2 separate regions of the Homo sapiens genome follow, and region 2 is linked to region 1. A link means that fine-mapping ties the variant in region 1 to the expression of a gene that starts in the linked region. Tissue or cell type: whole blood. Region 1 holds a variant in brackets; the other region holds the start of a gene. All regions are shown on one strand. Distances are between the middles of the regions. Region 1 overlaps SYT9 (synaptotagmin 9). Region 2 holds the start of SYT9-AS1 (SYT9 antisense RNA 1).

What was found. PIP is the estimated chance that this variant, and not a neighbour inherited with it, causes the effect.
Region 2: SYT9-AS1 starts here. The variant in region 1 is fine-mapped to the expression of SYT9-AS1 in whole blood (TOPMed, PIP above 0.99).

What each region holds. Positions count from the first base shown.
Region 1 is chr11:7,456,230-7,459,145 of GRCh38, reverse strand. The region is part of intron 6 of SYT9 (synaptotagmin 9); the gene reads right to left. It overlaps SYT9-AS1 (SYT9 antisense RNA 1), which reads left to right. Exons shown (of 5, transcript NR_103855.1): 3 at 1,187-1,350. Among named protein-coding and RNA genes, the nearest start is that of SYT9-AS1, 8.1 kb to the left of the region's middle. The variant T/C (reference allele first, on the strand shown) is at 1,619.
Region 2 is chr11:7,464,446-7,467,361 of GRCh38, reverse strand. SYT9-AS1 (SYT9 antisense RNA 1) reads left to right here and starts at 1,527. Exons shown (of 5, transcript NR_103855.1): 1 at 1,527-1,609. SYT9 (synaptotagmin 9) reads right to left here. Exons shown (of 7, transcript NM_175733.4): 7 at 1-570. The coding sequence ends at 562.

The DNA of each region.
Region 1 (2,916 bases):
TCCACGGTCAACCTTGGAATCATCCTTTACTTTTCTCTCTCATACCCTACAGAAAACCCTATTGGGTCTCCCTTCAAAATATACCCAGAATGTAACCATTTCTCACCATGTTCCTTGCTTCTACACTGTCCAAGCCTCTGTTATTGCCATCTAGATTATAGCAGTAGACTCCTAATGGGTATTCTCACGTCCAACCTTGTCATTATCTAGTCTATTCTCAACACAGCAGCAGAGAGATCAGTGATAACTTTGGATCATGTCACATCTCTCTTAAAAATTGCCATGTTGGCGAATGAGCCAAAGTACTTTTGAAGCTCTACTGGGTTCCAGTTACCTGAGCTCTGCCCGCTGTTACCTTTCTGATCTCATCCCCTACTTCTCTCTCTTTTTTCTCTCCTGCATCCCCCACATTACTCTCCTCACTATCCTCGTGTGAACCTCCTTAAGGCCTTTGTATTGGCCGTTCCCTTAGCGTGTATTTCTGCATGGCCACAGGGCTTGCTCCCTCACCTCCTTCAAGTGTTTGCTCAAATATTGCAATTGTTTGTGAGCCCTACAATTACCTCCATTAAAATTAACCCCCTGTAAAAAGTAAACAATCTATGTCACACTTCTGATCCCCATTGCTTGCTCTATTAAATTAAATTAATTAATTAATTTTTTTGAGATGGAGTCTCACTCTTGTTGCCCAGGCTGGAGTGCAGTAGCATGATCTCGGCTCACTGCAACCTCTGCCTCCCAGGTTCAAGTGACTCTCCTGCCTCAGCCTTTTGAGTGGCTGGGATTACAGGCGACCGCCACCATGCCCGGCTAATTTTTGTACTTTTAGTAGAGAAGGGGTTTTGCCATGTTGGTCAGTCTAGTCTCGAACTCCTGACCTCAGGTGATCCGCCCATCACAGCCTCCCAAAGCGCTGGGATTACAGGTGTGCGCCACCGCACCCGGCCCTATTTTATTCTTCATAGCATTTACCTTCACTATAACATAATACATCTGTGTCTCCCACTAGTCAAGTTTCACTAGAGCAAAGATTTTTGACTATTTTGTCCCTAAAAATGTATCTTCAGCACCTATAGTAGGTATTCAATCAATATTTGTTGAACAAATAAATACATCCTTGAAACTCCCATTTCCTTATGCAAAGTGATTGTTTCAAAGGAAGCTTGATTGATTCTTACTTGAACAGAATTCTTACAATACAGCAAATGATGCCATACAGTGAAGCACCTTGAAAGATTGCTGGGATAAGCTGACAGCATGGCAGCCAAAATAGTGACCCCAGGCTTGCAGGAATTCTGTGCTTTCTGGAGGAAATGGTCATGGGTTTCCCAACCTGCCTTTTAAACTAAGGTAAGTCTCTTATAAAGACCTTTATGAGAACTGTTTGAGCCCTCATGACACTGCAAATCCATCTGAGATGATGACTGGGACCTTCACTGCCACTGTCTTCATTCTCATGGGTGTTGCCTGGCTCTTTGGCATTCAGAGCTAGCTCTCAGTTGCTTTGGTGCATTAATAGAACCACTATGCCTGTAGATTTGAAGAAAAATTGACATGGAGAATTTATCTAAGAAATCAGTAAGTAAAACTTGTAAAAATCATTTTACAAGTTGTAAGA[T/C]AGAAGAAATTGAAATTCTGTCCAACAAGAACTTATTCAATGCTGACTTTGTGCCAGGCATTTTGCCAGGTGCTTGTTATACAATGATGAATAACACTTAGGCCCATTCTCAAGGAGCAGTGGGAGGTGCTGGGGATGACACACACACAGATAATATCAAGTGGCACCAAATGCTATGTCAGGGGCAGGCACAGGGTGCTAGGAGAGGATAGCACAGACGAGAAGCATTTAGCTCATACCACAGGATCTTCAGAATGCTTCCTGAAGAAGCTGACAACTGATTAGATGCTAAAAAGACAGGCTGGATCTAGGCAGGAAAAGAGGGGTTGAAAGGACAGCACAAGAAAAAGTTAAAGCAGAAGCAAGGGCATGGGGGTGAATAGAAAGCACTGTGTGAACCACCAGCCATTAGGTGTGGCCCCAACATAAAGTATAAGGAGGAGATGGAGGCAGGGTCGCAGAGGACCTTGAATGCCAAGGTAGGGAACTCGATCTTGATCTTGTTCAGAATGAAGGGCAGTTATTGAAGGATTTTTAAGTGGGAGAGTTACATGCTCAGATTTGTACTTTAGTACTTGAAGGAGTGTAGAGGTTGGATTGAAAACAAATAAGAGAGTCAGAAAACCAGAATTGAGTGATAGTATGGGATCAGCTGAAGCACCCCTCTTGCCTTGACAGATCTCACTGAGCCTGGCCCTGTGGAATTACTGGTGAGTGAGGATGGGAAGGAGGTCGTTGCCTTTAGCACTTGAGAACTCTAGGTGGCTGGTCCCAAAACAGGACGGGGCTGTTTAAATTTAGCATTTCCTGAATAGGGACCAATGGAGTTCTGAAAAAATAAGTCAAAAATATAAATACCAAAGAGATAATGAATGAAGAGTCATATATTTATCACCCACTCTCAACTGACCCTAAACTTTAGTGAACAATAAAATGGACATTAGATCTGTTCACCTGTGAACTTGATTTCAGGATATCACCATTACCACTTATGGAGGGTGGCCATTTTCTGGCTAAAGAGCAAGATCCCAAGGTCCTCTAGCTCTCATTTGCCTGACATGGGGAAGACACTGGAGGGAGGTGTAACCAGCCTGCTGCATGTGCAGGCAGCTTGCCTCTCTCCTCTGGGTGCCTCCACCCACTGTGAGGAGCTGTGTGCAGACTGTACCTTGTTTTAATCCTCCCTTGAGTACTTACACACTGACCAGCCCCCTCCTGCCTCCTGACTATTGCATACTGGAAACTTCTCCATGATCAGAGAGCAAAAGCTCAATTGCCATGTTTAGTAAAAGGTCTGC
Region 2 (2,916 bases), 8.2 kb before region 1:
CTTGTCTTGGTATTCTCTTGGGGCTATTCCTTGCAAATCTGGAGCACTTCTTGGGGCACAGTTATTTTCTGGAGACAGTCATTAGCTCAAAGGTAGTCATGTGTGAATTGAGATCTGCTGCCTATTTAGCACCTGGATATATTTTTAAATATTCTGTCCTTCCAGGGCATTCTAGAAAATAATATTATGTTGGAATAACGATTTCCAGGGCAGATGCTATGTCCTCATCACCAAGGGCTTCATATGAAACATTGAGTCCTGGTACTCTTGGTACTGTCACTATATCTATCATTTGTTTTTGTTCATAGTCCGATCTTGGTTCTTGGCATGAGAGACATGCTTCCCTGCAGCACATCACCTTGGGCCACCTGCAGAAGGTGGCTGGACCATTCAGGTTCACCAAACCCAATCTGGAAAGAAGGCCAGTTAGTGCTGTGGTTACAGCTGAGCATTTGGTCACTGAAATCGTCTGGATGTTGCTGGATGGAAAAAGTTACTTAAGATCTTTGTGAGATGGTTGTCCTATTTTGTCCTTGGCACAAGCAGTCCTCTTACCCATGGTCATCGTTTCTGCAGGAAGAAAAAACAAAAAAATAATTTGGCTTTCATTCATACATTTTTTTTCTTTTTTTTTTTTTTTTGAGACAGAGTCTTGCTCTGTCACCCAGGCTGGAGTGCAGTGGCGCGATCTTGGCTCACTGCAACCTCCGCCTCCTGGGTTCAAGCAATTCTCCTGCCTCAGCCTCCCAAGTAGCTGGGATTACAGGTGCCCGCCGCCACACCTGGCTAATTTTTGTATTTTTAGTAGAGACAGGGTGTCACCATGTTGGCCAGGCTGGGCTCGAACTCCTGACCTTGTGATCTGCCTGCCTCGGCCTCCCAAAGTGGTGGGATTACAGGCGTGAGTCACTGTGCCTGGCCCATTCATACATTTTTAATGTGCACCAAACAAGTGCCAGGCATGGTAATAGATGCTGGGGATACTAAGCCCATAAGTAGGACACTCCCCCTGCTTTCAAAGGGCTCACAGATGGAGATATTATGATGTGAGAAGCTGCATAGAATACTGCAGGGGCAATGGGAAGGGAGAAAGTAACTTCAAAGGGATTGAGGAGGTCTATAGAGAGCATTCTGATTGATGAGTCTTGAGCTAAGCCATTTAGGCTGAAGAGGAATCCCTCTGGAAAGAAGAAGGGTCACTTGGGGTAGAGGAAAGAGACTGTGCAAAGGCAGAATGCAATAAAGGGCATGGTGCATTGAAGGAATCATCACAATTTGGTGTGACTGGACTGTAGTGTGAGGAATGAAGTGGTCGGAGGTAAGGCTGGTGATATGATTTAGTTGTGCCCCCACCCAAATCTCAACTTGAGTTGTACCTCCCAGACTTCCCACGTGTTGTGGGAAGGGACCCGGCAGGGGAGGTAATTGAATCATGGGGGCCGGTCTTCCCCGTGCTGTTCTTGTGATAGTGAATAAGTCTCACGAGATCTGATGGGTTTATCAGGGGTTTCTGCTTTTGCTTCTTCCTCATTTTCTCTTGCTGCTGCCATGTAAGAAGTGCCTTTTGCCTCCTGCCATGATTCTGAGGCCTCCCCAGCCATGTGGAACTGTAAGTCCAGTTAAACCTCTTTTTCTTCCCACTCTCGGATATGTCTTTGTCAGCAGCGTGAAAATGGACTAATACAGCTGGGATGGAAAGATGAGGTCTGAGTGGTGCAACATCATTCCTTGTTTCCGAGATGTGAAGGAGGGGCTCTCTTAAGGAAGCCCCAGACTTAGACTAGCAGTATCTCTTGTGTTTCACACTCAGCCCAGCATTCAACTTAATTTAAACTCAGGGCACCTTCCAGCACAGATTAAATGTAGTAATACTGTGGCCATAGAGAGAAAAAACTGAAGTGACTTCTATGGATATAGGAATAACAAAATTTACACGTAAACTATAAAAGAGTAGCAACCATTCTGACAATGAAATTTATGGACTTCATTTCAGAGATCAAAAGTTCACATGTGAGGCTATAACTTACTTAAGGAAAGTATTAAAAGCCAGTGTGTTCACTGCAAAGGGAAACCACGTTTGATTGTGACCCGTGGCTTTGAAGTGTGTGCATGTGTGTGGGCACACACACACATCTCTGGGAAAGGGGTCTTTGTTTCTGTGTCTAGGAAGAAAGACTGAATGATATTTGTCTTAATATTGTGGTTCAAATATCAGTTTGCCAGATCAGCTGCTACCCTGGAGCACCATCCAAATAGCTCTACTTTCGTTTTTTTTGAGATGGAGTCTTGCTCTGTCCCCAGGCTGGAGTGCAGTGGCGCAATCTCGACTCACTGCAAGCTCCACCTCCCGGGTTCATGCCATTCTCCTGCCTCAGCCTCCTGAGTAGCTGGGACTACAGGCGCCCGCCACCACGCCCGGCTAATTTTTTTTTTTTGTATTTTTAGTAGAGACGGGGTTTCACTGTGTTAGCCATGATGGTCTTGATCTCCTGACCTCGTGATCCGCCCGCCTCGGCCTCCCAAAGTACTGGGATTACAGGCGTGAGCCACCGCGCCTGGCCCCGAATAGCTCTACTTTCTAAGCCACCATCTACATCAGGCCCGTGGTTCCCTAGCCGCTCTTTCAACTGTGAAACCCATACCCATATCAGTTTGCCAATTCCTGAGTTCCTTCCCATCAGAGAAAGCAAATTGTTAACAGGCTCAGTGTCACCAATGAATGTGGTCTGGAATTAGTTGTGATGGTATCAGCCCATATTCCTTCATTTTTGGGTACTTATTGTATGCCAGGCACTGGGATATGGACTTTACAAGTTCTTAAAAGACCCCGTGGGGTTCTTTAATGGAGGATGCAGCGTTGTAGAGACACTAATTTGCACAAGGCCACACTGTGACTAAGTGTCAGAGCTGAGATTT